7 linked regions of the Homo sapiens genome follow. The protein of the gene in region 6 interacts with the protein of the main gene of each other region in a pairwise test. Each region holds a gene or a part of one and is shown on either strand. Other genes may lie near its edges. The genes, in order: THAP3, HSF2BP, CDR2, GABPB1, AKAP8L, PKN1 and CEP57.

What was found.
Region 1: the proteins of PKN1 (region 6) and THAP3 interact in binary tests that used the Homo sapiens proteins (3 or more experiments, as listed by UniProt).
Region 2: the proteins of PKN1 (region 6) and HSF2BP interact in binary tests that used the Homo sapiens proteins (3 or more experiments, as listed by UniProt).
Region 3: the proteins of PKN1 (region 6) and CDR2 interact in binary tests that used the Homo sapiens proteins (3 or more experiments, as listed by UniProt).
Region 4: the proteins of PKN1 (region 6) and GABPB1 interact in binary tests that used the Homo sapiens proteins (3 or more experiments, as listed by UniProt).
Region 5: the proteins of PKN1 (region 6) and AKAP8L interact in binary tests that used the Homo sapiens proteins (3 or more experiments, as listed by UniProt).
Region 7: the proteins of PKN1 (region 6) and CEP57 interact in binary tests that used the Homo sapiens proteins (3 or more experiments, as listed by UniProt).

The regions. Positions count from the first base shown.
Region 1 is NC_000001.11:6,627,868-6,630,964, reverse strand, and holds part of THAP3 (THAP domain-containing protein 3), read right to left. Parts: intron 2,467-3,097; coding exon 2,274-2,466; intron 1,323-2,273; coding exon of another isoform or gene 1,241-1,322; intron 678-1,240; coding exon 612-677; intron 1-611. UniProt on the Homo sapiens protein: Component of a THAP1/THAP3-HCFC1-OGT complex that is required for the regulation of the transcriptional activity of RRM1.
Region 2 is NC_000021.9:43,610,989-43,614,488, forward strand, and holds part of HSF2BP (heat shock factor 2-binding protein), read right to left. Parts: intron 2,960-3,500; coding exon 2,842-2,959; intron 1-2,841. UniProt on the Homo sapiens protein: Meiotic recombination factor component of recombination bridges involved in meiotic double-strand break repair.
Region 3 is NC_000016.10:22,364,620-22,368,119, reverse strand, and holds part of CDR2 (cerebellar degeneration-related protein 2), read left to right. Parts: intron 1-3,105; coding exon 3,106-3,218; intron 3,219-3,500.
Region 4 is NC_000015.10:50,303,199-50,306,698, forward strand, and holds part of GABPB1 (GA-binding protein subunit beta-1 isoform beta 2), read right to left. Parts: intron 936-3,500; coding exon 768-935; intron 1-767.
Region 5 is NC_000019.10:15,384,489-15,387,988, reverse strand, and holds part of AKAP8L (A-kinase anchor protein 8-like), read left to right. Parts: intron 1-3,500. UniProt on the Homo sapiens protein: Could play a role in constitutive transport element (CTE)-mediated gene expression by association with DHX9. Increases CTE-dependent nuclear unspliced mRNA export.
Region 6 is NC_000019.10:14,450,306-14,453,805, reverse strand, and holds part of PKN1 (serine/threonine-protein kinase N1), read right to left. Parts: intron 3,489-3,500; coding exon 3,343-3,488; intron 2,911-3,342; coding exon 2,697-2,910; intron 1,978-2,696; coding exon 1,783-1,977; intron 1-1,782. UniProt on the Homo sapiens protein: PKC-related serine/threonine-protein kinase involved in various processes such as regulation of the intermediate filaments of the actin cytoskeleton, cell migration, tumor cell invasion and transcription regulation.
Region 7 is NC_000011.10:95,828,498-95,830,845, reverse strand, and holds part of CEP57 (centrosomal protein of 57 kDa), read right to left. Parts: intron 1,660-2,348; coding exon 1,515-1,659; intron 1-1,514. UniProt on the Homo sapiens protein: Centrosomal protein which may be required for microtubule attachment to centrosomes. May act by forming ring-like structures around microtubules. Mediates nuclear translocation and mitogenic activity of the internalized growth factor FGF2, but that of FGF1.

The sequences.
Region 1 (3,097 bases), on a different chromosome or scaffold from region 6:
GACTGAGGTGGGAGGATGGCTTGAGCCCGGTAGTTTGAGACCAGCCTGAGTAAAATAGCAAGATGCTATCTCTACAAAAAAAAAAAAGTGGGGGCCCAGGCGCGGTGGCTCACACCTATAATCCCAGCACTTTGTGAGGCAGAGGTGGGTGGATCACCTGAGGTCAGGAGTTCGAGACCAGCCTGGCCAACGTGGTAAAACCCCGTCTCTATTTCAAAACACAAAAATTAGCCGGGCGTGGTAGCGGGCATCTGTAATCCCAGCTACTCGGGAGGCTGAGGCAAGAGAATCACTTGAACCTGGAAGAGGTTGCAGTGCGCCGAGATCATGCCACTGCACTCCAGACTGGGTGACAGAGCGAGACTCAGTCTCAAAAAAAAGAAAAGAAAAAGGGAATCAGGCACGATCCCTACTAGCAACTGAGATTCTTTGATATTGAAAAGAAGGAAGCTGAGAGGCTTGGGCCTTCCCTCCAGAAAAACCGGGAATCCAAACTGGCATATGAGGAAAGGCGACAGCCCTGCGGGCCGGCCTTGCTGGGAAAATCCCACCTCCCTGTCTCAACCCACAGCATAATTTAAACATTCAAGTACCTGGCCCGGTGCACTCACCTTTTCTTTCTGAGAAGAGCTGGCATTTCCTCTCTCACTGGCAGGGTCTGTGTTCTCCCTCACCTGCTACAAGAGACACACACAGAGTGGATGCAGACCCCAAGAACCCTCAGAGCTCGGGGCAGGCCTCGGGCATCATGCTTGTCCCCGCTGCTCGGCCCACTGCATGCCCCAGTCAACGAACAGCTGCTAAATGAAACTGACCTGAAGCTCAGCCCAACTCACACTGCCCGCTTGGTGCGCTTCTCTTTCTCCAAAGATGTCCTCAAATCATGGTCAGAGTGCCCTGAATAGGTCCCTGTAGAGCTAGGGACCCATCTACTTCCTATGTGTCACCCCAGGGCCTGGCACCTGGCCCCATGACCGCCAGCAAGCAGCAGAAGCGCAGCTCACCACTCGAGGTGCCACTGACCCAGAACCTGCAGCCCCTGGGCCACACTGGGGTGGGGCCCACAAAGCAGAGCTGGCAGAGGCCGTACCCAGCTTCTCCCCACCAACCAGGCACTGGAAGCACCGAGGGCTACAGTGACAAACGTCCCCACTCCCAGTGGCTCAAGTGTCATCTTTCCAGGACAAACGTTATCACAAATACGTGAAGGTGATTAAAGTGTTCATCTATGGACACATACCCCGAGCACCTGGGCTGTGCCAGGCAGCGTCCTGGGTGTGGGGCCTGAAGCAGGGAAGGCAGCCCCTGCCCTCATGGAGATTCTGTTCCAGGGGAGAAGACAAAACCAATGAGGGAAACAGGAAGGACAGCAGGGGCCACAGGGGCCAGGAAGACTGAGGGGCAGGAAGGGGTCGGAGGCAAGAGGGGGTTTGAGGGTCCAGAAGGGCTTCCTGAAGGAAGGGACTGCCAACCTGAAGAGGTTCAGGCAGACTGCATGAGGCTATCTGGGAAGGGTGCTGGGGAGGACAGATGGGGCAGGGGCTCCCAGGCGGCCGCTCTGGGCGTGTTTGCTACGTGGCCGCTTTGTTCTTCCCATCGGCTCCACTCTCCACTCACGGATCCCTTTCCTCTCCCCATAAATCCACCAATGCAGGGAGCTGCTGGCCTGTGGCTTGTCCCGCCACTGCCCTGCCTGCCCACTCCACGTGGGTGCCCCTGTGGCCTATCATGCGATCTCAAGGCTTCAGCATCCAACTCTTTGTGAGCCCTCTCCTGAGCCAGGCCCACACATCCCACCTCCACCAAGGCAAGCTTGGCTCACTGCAACCTCTGCCTCCCGGTTCAAGAGATTCTCCTGCTTCAGCCTCCCAAGTAGCTGGGATTACAGGTGCCCACCAACACACCCAGCTGATTTTTGTATTTTTAGTAGAAATGGGGTTTCAACATGTTGGCTGGGCTGGTATCGAATTCCTGACCTCAGGTGATCCACCCACCTCTGCCTCCCAAAGTGCTGGGATTACAGACGTGAGCCACCGCACCCAGCCATAGAATAATTCATTTTTAAAATGCCTTTAATTTATGACTTCTCTTAAAGCCGAGGTCATGGCCAGCAGGGCCACAGGGCTGTGGACCCCAGAGGCGTGACAGTGCTGTTGTCACTGGAGTTCTTGGCCTTGGCTTTTCCCACACATGCCGCCACCCCCACTGCCCCCAGCTGCTGGTAAACAACGCAGGCTGGATGTGACCAGACGGAAGGTGCAGTGCCCTCCTACCTGTGTGGGGTCCTGAAAGGCGAACACCGTGGGCACGGCATTGTGCTTTAGGTTCTTGCGGTTTCCAAAGGCGCTGAAGCACTCTGGCCGGAAGTGCTCGGAGCAGATGACCGTGTGCTGCTTGGGCTTGAAGTTGCCCCGGCCGATGTTCAGCACCCATTCCTTCAGCAGCTCCGGGCGGCTGAACGGAAACCTAAGGGCAGAGGCACGGGGTGTGAGGCCCAGCAAGGCTGGACCCAGCGCCTCAGAGTCATTCGGAATTTTCACATCACTACAGAGTACTTCCCTGGACAGCTGTGGACATTCAGTCCTCTCGGTTTATTAAATCACATCTAATTTCTGGAAGCTTCTGTCACAGCTGTTAAAGCACTCTTAATAGGAAACCCGAGACCACGAGCATGGCCAGAGAGCCCAAGTGAGCTGCTTCCGATGCTACATTTGCCAGGAGCCTACCAGGAGCCGGGCCCTGTTCTTCGTGCTAGGGATGGGGGGTAATGAGACAGTCCTGGCCCCCAAGAGCTGATATTCTGGAGCGGGGGCACAGTGATGAGCCACACAGATGTGGACGGTGTCTTCTGGGGATGACAGCTGCTCCAGAGAACAGACAGAGGGAAGCCCTGGGGTGGTGAGGAGAGGCAGCTGAAGGGGTGATGTTTGAGCACAGACCGCAGGAAGTGGCAGCACAAGCGACGCAGGCTTCAGAAGGGACAGCAGGAACGGCCACTCACGCAGGTCCAGCTGAGACAGCGAGAGGGAGTGGGGACTGCATGACGCAGGGCCCTGAGCAGCTGGGGAGTCCCTGGAGGCTCTAGACAGAGGTGAGA
Region 2 (3,500 bases), on a different chromosome or scaffold from region 6:
GATCCACAAGCAATTTGTAAAATTATACCCCCAAACAAAACCATCTATGCCAGCCTGGGCAACATGGAGAGACCCCGTCTCTACAAAAAAATTTTTAAAATTTAACAATTAGCCAGGCATGGTGGCATGCACTGACGGTCCCAGCTGCTCAGAAGGCTGAGCTGGGAGGATAACTTAAGCCTAAGAGGTCGAGGCTGCAGTGAGCCATGTTCATACCACTGTGCTCCAGCCTGGGTTACAAAGCAAGACTCTGTCTCAAAAAAAAAATTTTTTTTGCATATATGTTACACTGTATTATATGTATTATGTATGTATAGATATTTGTTAGCACAAAATATTAAAATGGACTAGAAAGCTTGGTTCTGGATAAGATGGCCTGAACACACCCTCCAGTCTCGCTTCCACTGAATGCAGCTATAAATTCCAAAGAGAATACATGAAGCAGCTATTTGAGGACTCTGAAAAGTAAACAGTAGCAGGCAGATAGGGGAAGAAGATCAAAATTTTAAGAACCACTAAACCAGCAGAGAGTTTACCACTTTTTCCTTTAGTGTCCCTGGCCTGGACTCGAGGGAGCTCCAAAACCCAAAAGTAGCCCTGAGCCACACAGAGAGCACCAGGAGAAGGTCTCTAGTGAGGCTCAAGGAGTGGGAAAGGGGTCTCCTGCCAGCAACCAAGCACGGTAGCAGTGGGGACATCCCCCAGGTAACTCAAACTCTGGGGGAAAGGAATTTTTTCCTTACACCTGAAAGCTCTAAGAGCTTCTCAACTCCTGCCGCAGGGCGGGATGAGGGCAGAGTTGCAGGCACTTGGACACAGCAGGGTATATGAAGCCCCAGCATTCCAGGTGGGGGACTGAAAAAGGCAGTCCCAGGTAACTAAAGTGTACCCAGAGAGTTAACAGCTCAGAAAAGTGACCCCAAAAAGTTGTTTATAAATTCCTGGCCTCATCCCAAGTTGTGCCTGTGTGGATCTGATCATAAACAGTATCTGAAAGACTCTGAACCTAAGATCCAGACCACCCAGGTCTCAGACTGGCCACTGGGCGGCACTCACGAGGGGCAGTTCCAATAGCACTGTAAAGACTCTGAAAACAGGACGACACACTGAAACCAAACAGAGAAAAGGCTGGCTGGAATCTGACCCAAAGGGGTTGACTGCCTGTGAAAATATAAACACCAGCATTTCCCAAGGATTTAAACAAGACCAGTGATCACGTAAATGTCCAGGATAAATCCAAAATTACTTGGCATATGAAGAAACAGGAAAATCTCAACTCTCATGGGAAAAAACAATCAAGAGACACCGAGGCCAGGATGACACAGGTGTTGGAAGCACCTGGCACAGACTTTACAGAAGCTCTTACTTTTTAAAAGTGCTAGGCCGGGCGCAGGGGCTCACGCCTGTAATCCCAGCACTTTGGGAGGCCAAGGCGGGTGGATCACGAGGTCAGGAGATTGAGACCATCCTGGCTAACACGGTGAAACCCCGTCTCTACTAAAAATACAAAAAATTAGCTGGGCGTGGTGGCGGGCGCCTGTAGTCCCAGCTACTTGGAAGGCTGAGGCAGGAGAATGGTGTGAACCCGGGAGGCGGAGCTTGCAGTGAGCCGAGATCACGCCACTGCACTCCAGCCCGGGTGACAGAGCAAGACTCCGTCTCAAAAAAAAAAAAAAAAAAAAAAGTGCTCCACAGCAGGGGATGGTGGCACATGCCTGTAGTCCCAGCTACTCAGGAGGCTGAGGTGGAAGGATTATTTGAACGCCTAGGAGTTTGAGGCCAGCCTAGGCAAGGTCTGTAGAGACTCGGTCTCTTTAAAAAAATAATTAAAAAATAAAGATGCTCTAAGAAGTCAAAGGCAACACTCAGAACGAACAGTGTGAGTGGCAGAATCCTACACTGCCCCTCTCCCCAAGATTTCCTGCCCTAATCTCTGGGACTATAAATTATCACACGCTGATTATGTCATTGCCTGGAAAAGAGGATTCTGTAGATGTAATTAAGGTTACTAACCAGCTGACTCAAGAGTTAATCAAAAGGAGTTTATCCAGGTATGCCTCATCTAAACACACAAATCTATAAGAAGCAGAGTTTTTGCCTTCTTGAAGTAAACTTTTTAACAAAAGAATAAAAGCAGAGAGAGTTTCATCTTGCTGGTAGCAGAAGAGGAAGTCTCAGAGACTGGAAACGTGGGAAGGATTCAATGAGCGACTGTGGCTTGAAGATGGGGTCCCTGTGAGAAGCAATGCAAGCTGCCTCAGCAGCTGACCCACAGCTGACCAGCCAGCTGGGAAACAGGGAACTCGCTCCTAGAAACCAAGACACTGGACTCTACCAGCCACTTCAAAGTGCCCAGAAGCAGATTCCTCCCCTAGATTCTCTGAAAAGATCCCACCCTGGAAAACACCTCACTTTTGACCTATGCAGAGAACCTCTCAAACCCACTCAGACTTCTGACTTGCCAAACTATGAAATAATAAATGGTGTTGTTTTAGCCACCAAGTTGGTGATAATTTGTTACATAAAAATAGAAAACAAATACAGATTTTAGTAGCTGGAAGACAGATACCTATTTAAATTCATTTTGACATACCCATGAAGTACCATGTGATAATACTGGGACTCACTGATTGCTCTAAGGTGAGAACATTCCTTCCTTAAATTTATTTTCTAAAATGCTATTTAAGAGACAGTGCACGCCCTTAACTTCTCCAGGAATTTATTTCTTCTAGTTTTTAAAACTACCACCAAAATTAACTGTGTTTACTTGAAGAGAGGCCCAATCAGCACAGTCTAATTAATATGTAAATAGAATTAACTTTTTAACATTATCCACCATACACTTTGAGTTTGGTACACTGTCCTGGCTTCAAGTCTCCCAGAAGCTGCAATATGGTGTCCAAGAGCACCCGGCTTGAATTAACCAAGAATTCACGACCACATGCTATAGCAGCAACATCTGCAACAGAAAATGAAACAAAACATCAAGATCATTATGACTCAGAACCTAGACAATTTTGTGCAGAACAGAGTATTTTCTCCTAAAAGACCTAATGAAAACACAGCTGAAAATGAGGCATTTATAAATGAAATTGCTAGGCATGGTTGTTCACACCTGTAATCCCAACATTTTGAGAGACTGAGGTGGGAGGACTGCTTGAGGCCACAAGTTCAAGACCAGCCTGGGCAACACAGCAAGACCCTATCTCTACAAAAAATTTAAAAATTAGCCGGGCACGGTGTGTGCACCTGTAGTCCTAGCTATTCAGGAGGTAGAGGCAGAAGGATTGCTTGAGCCTAGGAGGTAGAGGCTGCAGTGAGCCATGATCATGACACTGCACTCCAGCCTGGGTGACAGAGCAAAGCCCTGTCTCAAAAAAAAAAAAAAAAAATTATCAACAAAAATGACAGCTCAGAAAGAATCACTGACAACCACAAGAGTTACTGAAATATCAAGTAATGTGCAGTGTGATTAGCAAGCGCCGAAAGAGTGAAACAGA
Region 3 (3,500 bases), on a different chromosome or scaffold from region 6:
TTAATGGAAGTCTTTATTTTTTATTTTTTTATTTTTGAGACAGGGCCTCACTGTATTTTTGGTAGAGATGTAATTTCACCATGTTGCCCTGGCTGGTCTCGAACTTCTGAGCTCAAGCAGTCCATCTGGTTCACCCTCCCAAAATGCTGGGATTATAGGCATGACCCACTGCACCTGGCCTCTAAAGTCTTAATGAATGTAATGACTAATAGACATTGTTAGTTTTGAAATCACAAGAGAATGTATTTTAGCACCTATCTACCAACAGTATACTGTTTTATTTTAAATGGGTGTAAAATGTTTTTAAATGATCTGGAGTTGGGTGTGGTAGGTTTTGCTGCTTTTTCCAGAGTGAAAACTAACCAAGTAGAATACTAATTATGCACTTGAGTGGACATTACAACAACTAATGCTGTTGTTACCATTTACTCAATGCTAAGTTTTACTATGAGTAGTGGTGGATAGCCATTAAGCCTTATTTGTCAACCTCTAAAAATTAAGTTTAAAAATCATTATGTAGTGAGTTTCCTTGTTTTTATGATAAATTTTTTTCATAATACTTTTATGACAATAACTGAGGCTACTTTCCATCATACCTAGAATAAAATTTAAACTTTACCTACCATGGGCTATAAAATCCTATATGATCTGATCCCTCATGCTTCTATCATACTGGCTGCTTGTCAGGTTGTAGAATATGCCAAATTCATGGCAAGTTCTTCATCCTTCAAGCTTCAGCTAAAAGGTCTTGTCAGACCTTCCTTATGACCTCCCTTTCTAAATTGGGCCCTAGGCTGGGCACAGTGGCTCATGCCTGTAATCCCAACATTTTGGGAGGCTGATGTGGGAGGATGTGTTGAGGCCAGAAGTTTGAGATCATCCTGGGCAGCATTGTAAGACCCTGTCTCTACAATAAATCAGTAAGTAAGTAAGCTGGGTTTGGTAGTGCATGCCTGTAGTCCCAGCTGTTTGGCAGGCTGAGGCAGGAAGATCACTTGAGCCCAGGAATCCAAGGCTACAGTCAGCCATGAGTGCACCACTGCACTCCAGCATGGCAACAGAGCGAGACCGTGCCTAATAAAGAGACAGAAAAAGAAAGCCCTTTGTTCATTATCACCAAATCCAGGTTTTTCTCCCCCGCTTTATCTTTTAGACTTTATATTGAATTGGTCAACAAATCCTTTAGCTTTACTTTCAAAACATGTCAGAATTCTGCCCCTCCTCTCCCATCTTCATCTCTGCCACCCTGGTCCAAGCCACCATCATCTCTCACCCAGACGATTGCAGTATCTTTCTGTCACTCTGCTCCCACCTTTGTCCCATTCACCCTGTATAACAGCAGCCGGAGTGATCCTGTTAAACCTCCATTGGATTCCTTCATTTGGAGTAAAGGCCAAACTCTTGACCTCTTTAGTTAGGCCCTCCGCAAACTGGCCATCTTGGAGCCCCTCTGATTTGAGTCTTCCCCCTCCCCTCCCTGCCCAATACATTCTGCTCCACCCTCCTCAGCCTCCTTAATGACTCAGTCATGCTTCCTCCCAGGTGCTTTGCACTTGCCTTGCCTCTGCCTGGAGTGCTGTTTCCCTGATGGATACACATGGGTCACTTATTCTGTTCCTTCACACATTGATTCTAATGTGGCCCTGGTCACATGTTCTTAAATTTCAGCCTCCCACATCCACACTCCTCCTGTACTTCTTCCTTGCTTTATTTTTTTCTCTTTAGCATTTATCGCTATCAAGTTTTATTGTGCTGTTTCTCCCAGTAGAATATAAGCTCCATGAGGGCAGGGATATTTTTTTAATGTGAGTTCCTTATGGCTCCTGGGCACCATCCCAGTGCCTAGAATAGTGTCTGATATTATTGAGTATATGCATGCATGCATGAATACTGTTTATCACAGTATGTGAGTTTAGTTACTCATTTGTCTGGCTTCCTCCACTAATCTGGGAATGTCAGCAAAGCAGGACTTCATTTTATTCACTGTTCTATAGCTAATGCTTAGCATAGTGCCTGGCAACAAAAACATTCATTTGTGAATCAATGACTATTAATAGTACTTTGCGTGCGTATTGCAACTTAGTTTGTAAAGTACTCCTTTATGTATTATTTCATTTGATTTTCACAATCTTATATTGATAAGACAGTCATCTCTCTAAACAAGAATACTAACTATAGGGGCCTTAAAGTCACCATATTGAAAGTGTTCTGGTAAATGATAGAACTGGGCCTGAGACTTACCTGCCCAGAGTGCAGTGCATTTCCCACTGTATCAAAGGACTGCTCCATAAGATTTACTATGCAAAGAAGTATTTCAATGACGTATGTTACAACTAGTGTCCTTTCTTATATTGTTAACTAAATTTTCATTTCTGGGAGTTGAGTATAATATAAACAAATCCTGTTTTATGGGCATTATACCTAAGAATAGAGAGAGTTGAAAAATGAGGTTTAAAATAAAATATGGTTCTGTGCTAAATGGAAGTATGAGCTACTGACATGTAATTACCTCAAAAACCACATTTCTGTTTTGCTTTTCTAGTTGCTCATCTTACAGAAGGACACGAAGAGAAGTAGAGTGACCTGGGGCAGTGTTCTTAATGCTGATGTATTTTTCCTTTTCTTGACTTAATAAATTTTAGTCCCCTTAGGAGTCCAGGATATATGACAATAAACTTTAACAGTTGTATTCACAGCAGGCAAATTCATGGGAACTTTAAAGATTTTTGAAAGCTCCACCTATACCTTGGCTCAAGGGTCCATTCAAAAAAGTAGACTGTCAGGATATGAATACATTCATTGTACTAGCAAATAGGATTTTAGAAGTAACACTGCGGAATGATCATTCCTGAACAAATAACTGCATCTCCATAAAGTAGATGACCATTTTTCACTTCTTACAAGTATGGGTACATAAGAGAATACATTACCTGCTGGAGGCGTCAGTTTAACTGAATTTTAAGTAGAACTCGGGTTTCCTTCTGTGCCACTCCACCTTCCATTGGGATGTGACTTAAACTACATGTTCTTTTTTGAAGGACTGGGTTATATAAATTGTTGATGTGAGATCATTTGTATTATTCTAAGATTCATTTGTTGTGCTAGATCTTCAACTTGCTGCTGAGCTTGGGAAGACATTACTGGATCGGAACACAGAGTTGGAGGACTCTGTTCAGCAGATGTATACAACCAATCAGGAGCAGTTACAGGAAATTGAGGTAATTCACTTGGCAGGAGAGTTACACTTTTGACACTTCGATGTGTTGCTGTTATGCCAATCACATACTGGTAAAAAAGCACTTGCAATTAGATGCAGCATTTTATTTTTTAACACAAACTTTTTTGAGAATGAGAACCGCCTCCCGAGTAGCTGGGATTACAGGCGCCTGCCACCACGCCTGGCTAATTTTTGTATTTTTGGTAGAGATGGGGTTTCACTGTGTTAGCCAGGCTGGTCTCGAACTCCTGTCCTCAGATGATCCACCTGCCTTGGCCTCCCA
Region 4 (3,500 bases), on a different chromosome or scaffold from region 6:
CTGTGCTTTAAAGCAAGAACAAATAATGTAGTCAATTATTTATATGTATATGTTAAATAGATGTTCCAGGCCAGGTGCAGTGGCTCACGCCTGTAATCCCAGCACTTTGGGAGGCCGAGGCGGTTGGATCAGCTGAGCTCAGGGGTTTGAAACTAGCCTGGGCAATATGGCAAAACCCCATCTCTACAATACAAAAAATTAAGGGCCGGACATGGTGGCTCACACCTGTAATCCCAGCACTTTGGGAGCCCAAGGCAGGCGGATCACAAGGTCAGGAGTTCGAGACCAGTCAAGCCAATATGGTGAAACCCCATCTCTACTAAAAATACAAAAATTAGCTGGGCATGGTGGTGGGCGCCTGTAGTCCCAGCTACTCGGGAGGCTGAGGCAGGAGAATCACTTGAACCCAGGAGGTGGAGGTTGCAGTGAGCTGAGATCGTGCCACTGCACTGCAGCCTGGGTGACAGAGATTCTGTCTCAAAAAAAAAAAAAAAACAAAAAGAAAAAATGCTGTAGTCCCTCATCATAAGATAGACCAAGGTCCAAGAAATCAATTAGCTGATTTAACTAAGAATATACCTAAATGAAGTTTTGTCCCTCATGAAATGAAAGCTATAAGACAATTTTCATTTAATGGGCTTATACACACAAAAAATGAAATACTATAGATAAAATACTAAGTAGGCATTTAACAAAAACTAGTTCCCTCTCCTTCTTATAAAACCGTAAAGTATTTTAAAAGCAAAGTGCAAAAAGAGAACACATACCTTAAGTAAAACCTCTACTATGCTGGCATGGCCCTCAGAAGCTGCCATATGTAATGGTGTTCGGTCCACTTTGGTTCTGGCATCTCTGCTCACACCAGCTCGCAGCAGTACCTCTGTGGTGGAATAATGACCATACTGTGCTGCTAGATGAAGTGGAGAAGTTCCCAGCTGTACCACAGAAAAAAAAAAAAATCCACATTTACATTATTGTTACTACACTTCTGTTTATATAGTAAACAGATTTTCTTTACATTATCTGTTTACATAGCAACTCAAAACTCAAAAGAAATGCCTAGATTCATGCTTATCACATCCTCTTCATAGACATCTTGAAGAATTCCCAAACACTCTCAATGAAGAAGAAAATCCAGTATTTCCTTTAATTCAAACTTTCTTTCTTCATTATTTTTTATCAGATAAACTGCCTGAACAAAATTAATTTCATTAGAAATTAAGATATAGAGGCCGAACGTGGTGGCTCACGCCTGTAATCCCAGCACTTTGGGAAGCCAAGGCGGGTGGATCACTTGAGGTCAGGAATTCAAGACCACCCTGGCCAACATGGTGAAACCCCATCTCTACTAAAAATACAGAAATTAGCCAGGCGTGGTGGCATGTGCCTGTAATCCCAGCTACTCAGGAGGCTAAGGCAGGAGAATCGCTTGAACCCAGGAGGCAGAGGTTGCAGTGAGCCGAGATCGCGCCACTGCACTCCAGCCTGGGTGACACAGCGAGATTTTGGTCTAAAGAAAAAAAAAAAAAAAAGAAATCAGAGATAGAGTTTGAGAAATTTTTCTGTGTATTAGAATGTATTCCTCATACCAATCACACAAAACTTGCTAAGTTAACTTCGTCTGTAAAATTCATCTCAAATAAATGTAACAGTGTACATTTTTACTTTAAGTGGATCAAAATTGTTTTGTAGGTCTTAAAAAATTCACGTATTGAAACATCTCAGTGATCTTTTTAAAGGGATTTTTTTCAAAGGAAAAATCTTAGGTGCATTTGCCAAAGTTGAATCAGGACAAAACCAAAACAGAGCCCAATTCTCCTGAAATTGGTTCCATGTGGTCTAGTCATTAAATTGACATCCACAATACACAGAGGGAGTACTAAAATGTGAGGGAAGGAAGATTAAGTTCTATCACATGCATTTAAAGGCACAGAAAATCCCTATAACCCTCTGATTACCACATCACTTGATATTCCAAAGAACTAAGATATTTGGACTAAGGAAATTTACACATATAAACAGTTTATTATGTTATGAAGAGATTAAGTGAGATATATGTATAAAGGTCCTTAGTCCTATCTCTCTATCTATCTATCTATAGATAGAGAGATAGATATATTTTTTGTTTGTTTGTTTGTTTAATTGTTGTTTGTTTAATTAGAGACAGGGCCTCACTGTGTTGCCCAGGCTGGGGTGCAATGGATATTCATAGGTACAATTATCACACACTACAGCTTTGAACTGCTGGGCTCAAGCAATCTGTCCACCTCAGCCTCCAGAGTAGCTGGGACTACAGGCACACACCAACAAACCCAGCTAAACCTTACATTTTTAAGAGAAGGTCATCCCAGCAGATCAAAGAAGATCCTTAAACAATCCTTTCTTTCTCCATGCTTTGTCAATTTTTCTTTAACTAGCCTTTTCTATACTCTTAAATTTCAGTATTTAATGAAAATATCTCAACAGCCCATTTAGCAACCAGGAGCTTTGCTCAGTTTGACATTAGGATCTACTTTTTTATTTTTGTCTTCTGAGACTTTCCCTTCTTGGTTATTGACACAAAATATATATACATATATGCAGGGTTTTTTGTTTTTTTCTGAGACAGGGTCTCACTCTGTCACTCAGGCTGGAGTCCAATGGGGTGATCACAGCTCACTGTACCTTCAAACTTCTGAGCTCAAGCGATCCTCCTCCCTCAGCCTCCCGAAGTGCTGGGATTATGGATATGAGCCACCACACCTGGCCATGTAGTTTTTGTAGCTTTTTGGGTTTTTTTTTATTCATTTTTTTAGAGTCAGCTTCTTGCTCTGTCGCCCAGGCTAGAATGCAGTGGAGCTATCGTAGCTCACTGTAACCTCTAACTCCTAGGCTCAAGCAATCCTCCCATCTCAGCCTCCAGAGTAGCTAGGACTACAGGCTGAGCCACCATGCCTGACTAATTTTTTTCTTTTTGTTTGAGATGGGGTCTATGTTGCCCATGCTGGTCTTGAACTTCTGGCCTCAAATAATCTGCCACCTCAGTCTCCCAAAGTGCTGGGATTACAAGCGTAAGCCACTGTGCTCAGCCAATATATGTAGTTTAAGGCAAACACCTGTGAATCAACACCATAGTCTAGAAATAAAACACTGCCAGTAATTTAAAATCTGGCCAGGCGCAGTGGCTCACGCCTGTAATCCCAACACTTTGGGTGGCCAAGGCAGGTGGATTGCCTGAGGTCAGGAGTTCGAGACCAGCCTGGCCAACATGGTGAAACCTCATCTACTAAAAATAAAAAATTAGCTGGGTGTGAGGGTGGGCGCCTGTTATCCCAGCTACTTCGGTGCCTGAGGCAGGAGAATCACTTGAACCCGGGAGGCAGAGGCTTCAGTGAGCCAAGATCATGCCACTGCACTCCAGCCTGGGCAACAGAGCGAAACTCTGTCTCAAAAAAAAAAAAAAAAAAATCTTCCCACATGCCACTCCCTGATCACAAGCCCCTCCCCCAGCCCCAGAGGTA
Region 5 (3,500 bases), 930 kb from region 6:
TTTTCCCCTCCCCTCCCCGCCCCCTCTCCCAGACAAGAGTCTTGCTCTGTTGCCCAGGCTGGAATGCAGTGGCGCGATCTTGGCTTGCTGCAACCTCCACCTCTCAGGTTCAAGCAATTCTCCTGCCTCAGCCTCCCGAGTAGCTGGGATTACAGGCATGTGCTACCACGCCCGGCTAATTTTTGTATTGTTAGTAGAGACGGGGTTTCACCATGTTGGCCAGGCTGGTCTCGAACTCTTGATCTTATGAGCCACCCACCTCAGCCTCACAAGGTGCTGGGATTACAGGCGTCAGCCACTATGCCAGGCCCAAGAGGGATGGTTTTTGAGGTGGTTGTTTGAGATTTATTCTGAACCCAGGGAGTCTGTTCTTAGCTATTTCACTGGTCCTTGTCCTCTTTGGTAACCTAGTTAGCCTATGGGTTAGCTAATATCACTGTCAAATCTACCGGTCCTTCTTTTTTATGGCTGTGTGGTGGGGGAAAAAAAAAAGGACAAAGCTATCAGTGTTTAACTCCAATAAATATTCAGAAAGAAAAAAAAAAGCTATCAATGTCCTTTTAATTTTTTTCCTCCCTAGTCTCCATTGTTTTTGAGAGAGGCCCTAGTCTTGCACTTCCCAACACTCTTGCCAGTGAAGTCAGTCAGTTCCTTTGAGATTGGGAGTTTACTGATTTAAGGCCGTGCTCTCACTGTGGGCAGAATCTCTGAGCCAAGGCTCTGGGGATGGAGACAATGGAGTACCTCTCTCTGAGTGACTCTGCCACTTTAGGAGAGACATGGGAGGAGGTACAGTAGGCTGTAGCCTCCGGTCTTGGTTTGCCTTTCCTGGCATGGGACCTCTGCTTTATGAACAAGCCATGGGTATGTGAGCCCTTATATTCTTAGTGTGCCATGCCCAGGGTCAAGCCTCCATTCCACGTGCGTGTGGCTGGGTAGAAGATAGGAACCGTTCTCTCTCAGCTATGCTTGTCTAGAACTTAGCCTCATCAGCAGGTAGCTGGGGGCGGGATGAGAGATACTGACATCCGGCTGGGTACAGTGGCTCACGCCTGTAATCCCAGCACTTTGGGAGGCCAAGGTGGGCAGATCACCTGAGGTCAGGAGTTCAAGACCAGCCTGGACAACATCGTGAAACCCCATCTTTACTAAAAATACAAAAATTAGCCGGGCTTGGTGGCGGGCACTTGTAATCCCAGCTACTCGGAAGGCTGAGGCAGGAGAATTGTTTGAACCCGGGAAGTAGAGGTTGCAGTGAGCCGATATCACGCCATTGCACTCCAGCCTGGGCAACCAAGAGTGAAACTCCAACTCAGAAAAATAGATGCTGACATTCTGTTCCTCCTGGGAAGATATCATACCCCTTAACTGAGATGATCTGGGTAGATGCGGGCAGACCTGTCTTCTTGGCTGTACTGTCTGGAGTGGAGTTTCCATCACACTAAGCTGGGGGAGGCAGGGATGCAATAGGTTGTGTTTCAGACATCACAACTCTTCATGGAACTGAGTTTTAGTAGCTTTTCCTCATTAAATCTTTCTCATAGGGCTGTATGTCCTTAGGAACATTTTCAGAGACTTTAAATGGTTGTTTTTTAATACTTTTCATCAGTTTCACTAGGGAGTGTTCCAGGGAACGCCTCAGACTGCTATGCTAGAGTCTGTCCTCTCAATATTTAGGAAGCTTCTTAAACCTTAATTCCAAAATTCTGATAAAGATGATACCAAAATGAAACTGTAGATTAGTTTACTATTATTAAAGATATGAAAGTGGGCTGGATTGGCCGGGCGCGGTGGCTCATGCCTGTAATCCCAGCACTTTGGGAGGCCGAGGCAGGCGGATCACGAGGTCAGGAGATCAAGACCATCCTGGCTAACACGGTGAAACCCCATCTCTACTAAAAATACAAAAAATTAGCCGGGCGTAGTGACGGGCGCCTGTAGTCCCAGCTACTCGAGAGGCTGAGGCAGGAGAATGGTGTGAACCCAGGAGGCGGAGGTTGCAGTGAGCCGAGATCGCGCCACTGCACTCCAGCCTGGGCAACAGAGTGAGACTCCTCAAAAAAAAAAAAAGAAAAAAAAGAAAGAAAGTTGGCTGGATATAGTGGCTTATACCTGTAATCCCAGCACTTGGGGAGACTGAGGTGGGAGGATCATTTGAGCCCAGGAGTTCAAGACCAGCCTGGGCAATATAGTGAGACACTGTGTCTATAAAATTAAAAATAAAAAAATTAGCCAGGTACTGGGGCCTGTGGTCCCAGCTACTTGGGAGGCTGAGGTGGGAGGATCACCTGAGCCCAGGAGGTTGAGGCTGCAATGAGCTGTGATCGTGCCACTGCATTCCAGCCGGGGCAACAGAGCAAGACTCTGTCTCAAAAAAATAAATAAAATGAAGTGCTAAATAAAATATTAGTAACTATCAATCTAGTAGTGATCCCTATGTATGATACATTATAAGTAAGGTTTGTTTCTGGAATGGAGGGATGGTTCCCTAAGAAATCTAGCAACAGTTGCCGGGCGCGGTGGCTCATGCCTGTAATCCCAGCACTTTGGGAGGCCGAGGTGGGTGGATCACGAGGTCAGGAGATCGAGACCATCCTGGCTAACACGGTGAAACCCCATCTCTACTAAAAATACAAAAAATTAGCCAGACGTGGTGGCGGGCGCCTGTAGTCCCAGCTACTCGGGAGGCTGAGGCAAGAGAATGGCATGAAAGGCCGGGCGCGGTGGCTCACGCCTGTAGTCCCAGCACTTTGGGAGGCCGAGGCGGGCGGATCACGAGGTCAGGAGATCGAGACCATCCCGGCTAAAACGGTGAAACCCCGTCTCTACTAAAAACACAAAAAATTAGCCGGGCGTGGTGGTGGGCGCCTGTAGTCCCAGCTACTTGGGAGGCTGAGGCAGGAGAATGGCGTGAACTCGGGAGGCGGAGCTTGCAGTGAGCCGAGATCCCGCCACTGCACTCCAGCCTGGGCAACAGAGCGAGACTCCGTCTCAAAAAAAAAAAAAAAGAGAATGGCATGAACCTGGGAGGCGGAGCTCGCAGTGAGCTGATATCGCGCCACTGCACTCCAGCCTGGGCGACAAAGCGAGACTCCGTCTCAAAAACAAAAACAAAAAATCTAGCAATATTATTGGTATAATGCAAACTCTCTTTATGTGCAAATAATGTGATTATGCTCTTAGAAAAGCTGAATGATCCCAGCAAAATGTTCTTAGAATTAATAGAATTTGGTAAGGGGATGGGATTCAAAATAGCGTACAAAAAGTCGTAGTGTTTCTCTATTCTAGTATTAACCAGTTAGAAATTTAAATGGAAAAAAAACTACTTAAAATAACCACACAATGTATGAAATAGCTAAGAATACAGATTTAAGAAGAAAGACTTGAGGGCCAGGCATGGTGGCTCATGCCTGTAATCCCAGCACTTTGGGGAGGCTGAGGCGGGTGGATTGCCTGAGGTCAGGAGTTTGAGACCAGCCTGGCCAACATAATGAAACCCT
Region 6 (3,500 bases):
TGCCTCAGCCTCCAGAGTAGCTGGGACTACAGGCGTGCACCACCACCAAGCCCGGTTAACTTTTGTATTTTTAGTAGAAATGGGGTTTCACCATGATGGCCAGGCTGGTCTTGAACTTCTGACCTCAGGTGATCCACCTACCTTGACCTCCCAAAGTGGTGGAATTACAGGTGTGAGCCATTGCGCCTGGACTGCTTACTCTGTTTTTACTTGTTTCAGGAACTGCCAATATTCCTTCCTCCCTCCCTCCCTCCCTCTCTCTCTCTTTCTTTCAGACAGAGTCTCGCTCTGTTGCCCAGGCTGGAGTGCAGTGGCTCGATCTAAGCTCACTGCAACTTCTGCCTCCTGGGTTCAAGCGATTCTCCTGCCTCAGCCTTCTGAGTAGCTGGGATTACAGACACACACCACCATGCCCAGCTAATTTTTGTATTTTTAGTAGAGACGGGGTTTTGCCATGATAGCCAGGCTGGTCTCGAACTCCTGACCTCAGGTGATCTGGCCCCCTCAGCCTCCCAAAGTGCTGGGATTACAGGTGTGAGCCACTGCACCCGGCCATGCCAATATATTTTCCATAGGGCTGCACCATTTTACATTCCCACCAACAGTGCACAAAGGTTCTGATTTCTCTCCACATCCTCACCAACACTTATTTTCTGTTTGTTTTGTTGGGTTTTTAAAATAGTATTAGTCATCCTAATGAATATGATATATTGGTTTCTTGTTTGGTTTTCCTTTCTTTTTAAATTTGTTTTATTTATTTATTATTATTATTATTATTTTGAGATGGAGTCTTGCTCTGTTGCACAGGCTGGAGTACGGTGGCACAATCGCGGCTCACTGCAACCTCCGCCTCCTGGGTTCAAGCAATTCTCTGCCTCAGCCTCCCGAGTAGCTGGGATTACAGGCACGCGCCGCCACGCCTGGCTAATTTTTTTGTATTTTTTGTAGAGATGGGGTTTCACCATGCTGGCCAGGCTGGTCTTGAACTCCTGACCTCGTGATCCACCCGCCTCGGCCTCCCCAAGTGCTGGGATTACAGGCGTGAGCCACCACGCCCAGCCTTTTTTTTAATCTAAATAAACTTGAAGTTTTTTTTCTTTTTTTTTAATTTAGAGACAGGGTCTCTCTGTCATCTAGGCTAGAGTGAAATGGCTCAATGATAGCTCACTGGGCTCAAGTGATCCTCCCACCTCTAGAACAGCTAGGACTACAGGTGTGGGCCACCACATCTGGCTAATTTTTACATTTTATTTTTTGTAGAGACAGGGTCTTGCTATGTTGCCCAGGCTGGTCTCAAACTCCTGGCCTCAAGTGATCCTCCTGTCTCAGCCTCCCAAAGTGCTGGGATTACAGGCATGAGCTGCTGCACCTGGCCTGTTTTTTTGTTTTTGTTGTTGTTTTCGTTCTCTTTTGAGGCAAAGTCTCACTCTGTCACCCAGGCTGGAGGGCAATGGCGTGATCATGGCTCACTGCAATTTCCACCTCCCGGGTTCAAGTAATTCTCCTGCCTAAGCCTCCCAAACAGCTGGGATTACAGGTGTGCACCACCATGCCCAGCTAAGTTGTATTTTTAAGTAGAGACAGTGTTTCACCATGTTGGCCAGGCTGGTCTCAAATTCCTGACCTCAAGTGATCCGTCCACCTTGGCTTCCCAAAGTGCTGGGATTACATGTGTGAGCCACCACACCCGACCCCTGGCTTATTTTTTAAAGGTTTACAAATATGGGGCATTCCAGGTCCCCAATGCCACCTCGTTTCTCAGGGCCCACGATGCCCACTCACTGGTGTTCTCGGCTTCTGCTTTGAGGCTGCTCCGGCCACTGAGGCTTCCGCTTCGGCTGTAAAGGCCCCGGGCTGGGCGGCTCAGGAAGGGGGGGCGGCTGTCTGGGGTCCCAGGTCCCCCCATTGAGGGGGTAGGGTTCCACGGGATGGTCTCTGGGAGGTCTCTGCAGCCCACCACTCGTACCTCCAGGGTCCCTGCAGGAGGGGAAAGCTCAGCAGGGGGCCACTTCTGGGGCAGGCTGAGCGGAGGGGACCACAGCGGGGAGGGGACACATCCAGACGCAGCCATGGTACAAGTGGGAGCCAGTGAGGGACAACCAGAATGGAGCATGGGGCATGAGGCCGGGATGTCCGTGCTGGGATAGGAGAATATGAGAGAAGCAGTCCTTCCAGGAGGGGCTCAGATGCGGGAGTTTAGGGGCAGAAGAGAGGCTCAGGGTACAGGCCGTAGGCTCAGGGTACAGGCCGTAGGCCCAGGCAAGCAGGAACAGGGTAGGACTAGGGGTTCTAGGGGAGGACTCGGTGGACAATCTGAGGTCTAAGATGGGCTAGGGGTCTACGGTGGGGCTGGTCTGGAGGGGTAGATGGCTGAGGGGTCTGTGGAAGGTGGGGCTGGCTGGTCTGCAGCAGGCGGGTAGGAGGCTCATGGCTGAGCGTTGTGAGGCCGAGGTGGGGCTGGGGAACAAGGGCTGGGAGAAAAATACTGGGCCAGGTGAAGAGAGATGGAGAAACTGAGGTGTGGGGGGGGTGGGCAAGAGCCCAGAATCAGAGGGCAAAGGAGGGGAGGAGACAGTGGTGGAATGGGAGTCCAGGGTTGGGGAGAGCGGAGATTGAAGTCGGGGGTCACAGGAATGGGGAAATGAGAGGAGTCGGAGGCCCAGGGCTGCAGGGGTGGGGTAGGGTCTCAGACCCACCTGTGAGCGGCGCGGGCTTGCACAGGGTGCTGTAGTGCGTGGCGGGAAAGGGCCCGGCCAGGCGGGTGCTGAAGGCAGCGGAGGAGGCCGCAGCGAGCTCTTCTCGCAGCAGCCGCCCCTTGGGGTGGTCGGCGGGCAGCTCCCCAAGTCTCCGCTCCAGAGCCTCCCGCAGCAGCCCCAGCTTCTGGTTGGATTCTGTTAATTTCTCCTGGGCCTGTGGTGGGAAGTGTGGGGGCTGGGGGCGGGACCAGGCTTGCCCCTTCCCAAGTGCAGGCCTAGGCCCCACCCCCAGGCTGAGTCTCACACTGAGCTCCTCCCTAGAGGGCTAAACCTCAAACCAACTTGGTCCCACCTCTGGGAAAACCAGGCCCCGCCCCTTGGAGAGGCCCCTCCCCTCACCGAGGGCCATTCCTGCCTGAAACCATGCCCCCTCGCTGAGGCCCCGCCCCTCACAGTTGCACTGTTCCTGCCTGATGCCCTGCCCCTCACAGTAGTCTACCCTGGCTGAGGCCCCACCCCTTATGAAGGTCCCACCCCCTTTGAGGCTCCACCCCTCACCGTGGGTGTTCCTGGTGAACTCCCCGCCGCTTGCTGAAGCACCGCCCCTTGCTGAAGCCCCGCCTCTAATGAAAGCTCCGCCCCTCACCTCGCTGACTGCCTTGCGGTCCGGGGCCTTGGCAGCGCTGAGCAGGCGCAGTACGTTCTTGGCACCCTCGGCCACCGCGTGCTCCACTCGGAAGTGGTGCCGCAGCTCTTCGATGCGCAGCTCCACAGCCCCCAGGTCAGGACTCCCTGTGAGCGTGG
Region 7 (2,348 bases), on a different chromosome or scaffold from region 6:
AATATTAATATAAATAAATATATGCTTATATATATATAAAACAATACACAAACAAGTAGACATGAGTAAACAAATTCTGGTTGTCCTAAATTAAGGCAATATTGCCAAAGTACAGAACAGGGCGAGTGAGAAACAAGGGGAGTTGAAGGAAAGACTCATGAAGGAGGCAAAAAATCAGACACAGAGAAAAGAAGAATGGGAAGGATTTTCACAAATGGGAGAAGAGGAGAAAGATATTCTAGAAACTAGTCTGAGGAGGCAAAGAAGCAATTTCCAGATGGATGAACAGATGTAATTGGTAATGTATTAATACTATGAAAAGAATTTTATTTTTGTTCCATTATTTTTAGAATAATTTTAAATACGGGAGCTTTATTTTTACTTTAGCCAAACTGATGCTGGCATGTTGGTGTTCCAATAGAATAAGTCTAATTAGTATAAGCAACAAATTAGACCATTACTCCTTACTCCTACAGGAATAATTTGCTTGTATTTCTTTTTCATACATGAACTTTGAAAAAACAGCCAAAGTTTTAGAGTTGAAAAGGCTAGTTTCATCCCAGCTCTGCCATTTCCCAGTAAGCTGGTACTTGGGCAAGTTATTTAATTTCACTGAGGATATATGCATACTTCCCAGAAAATGTGGCTTAGCATCTACCTCATCTATAATATGAGAATATACCCACCTCAGAAGCCTTTTGTGAAAATTAAATGAGAAGATATACTCAGAGCACTTGGCACTGTGTGTCTATCATATGGCTACCAATCAACAGTCAACAAAACTGTTCTGCTCTCTGAACTTCTCAGCTTTCTCCATTTTAGTCAGTGGAATCACCATCCTAACTCCCTCTCCTTCTACATGATACCCAGCAGCAAGTAACCCCAATATTTTTTTTACTTCCAAAACATACCTCAAATCTGTTTACCTCTGCCCAAACCCAACTACTGTCTTGCTGACCACCTCTGATACATCTATAGCTGATCTCTCAGCCTCTCTGCCTTGATCCCATTACCCTACCCCTAGTCACTACAGTAATCTCTTAAATATATGAATCATGTTTCTCTCTGGTTGAAAACCCTTGAGTGTGATGTCACCACTGCATCTGGTAGTACTACATTGTTGGCTGATATAAAATGATTAGCAACATAAATATATTTCACATATTTAATGTATGACTTATTCCTTTGGAAACAGAATTTCGCAGGTGCTTTTAAAAAAACTTACTTGGATAAACTCCAATTTAAATTCATCAAAGAAGTTAAAGCTTATTCATAAAGAATATTAAATATATTCAGTATTTGAAAGATGTTTCTTAGATGAATATGCTAAGTGACTAAAAGTGTCTTCTTTCTTAATCCACTTACCAATTCTCAATGAACAAATGTCTTCAGTAAAGAAGTATCTCCTGTAGATATTTATCTATGATACACTTAGTGTCATCATTTAATATTTGAATTAAAGTGTTTTTTTTTTCTTAATCATTAGAAACTTGAGTGAAGGAAAACTGAGTTACCTGGGCTTGGTATTTTCGAACTTTAGTTATTTGGTTGGCTTTTGCTTCCATCCTTCCCACTAATGCCTCCAATTCACACTCCAACTTGTCTTTCAGTTCAACGGTTGGCGACTCCTGGATAAGTTTTGCAAGCTGCTGGTGATCACTATATACAAAGCAGAAGTAGAACATGGTTAAGTTTTCTGTGTTTCATGGTTAGGTCTATTATACCTCATTATGGGTTACTGCTCCATGTGTTTAAAAAATGACTCCATTTTTTGAACAGAGCAATAAATTTTTTTTTTTTTTTTGAGACGGAGTCTTGCTCTGTCGCCCAGGCTGGAGTGCAGTGACATGATCTCGGCTCACAGCAAGCTCTGCCTCCCGGGTTCACGCCATTCTCCTGCCTCAGCCTCCCGAGTAGCTGGGACTACAGGCGCCTGCCACCATGCCTGGCCAATTTTTTGTATTTTTAGTACAGACAGGTTTTCACCCTGTTAGCCAGGATGTGATATGCCCACTTCAGCCTCCCAAAGTGCTGGGATTACAGGTGTGAGCCACCATGCCTAGCCTAGATCAAGAAATTTTTAATTAAAAATATGAATTTAAAAGTTCAAGAAAGGCACTAGAGGGAAATGCAAGAGTTCTTAATTTCAAGGTTAATTCTTTATATTCTTATTTTCCCCAAAAGAGTATTGTATATGTAAAGTCTACAGATGAATCTTGCTCTTCAAACACTCATGTCTTATCAGTTAAGTTTAGCTAAAATGAATGTGATGTCAGGTGCCAGATGATGATGTAGTAAACAACAGACCACATATACAACAGTGGTCCCGTAAGACTTTAGTATCATAT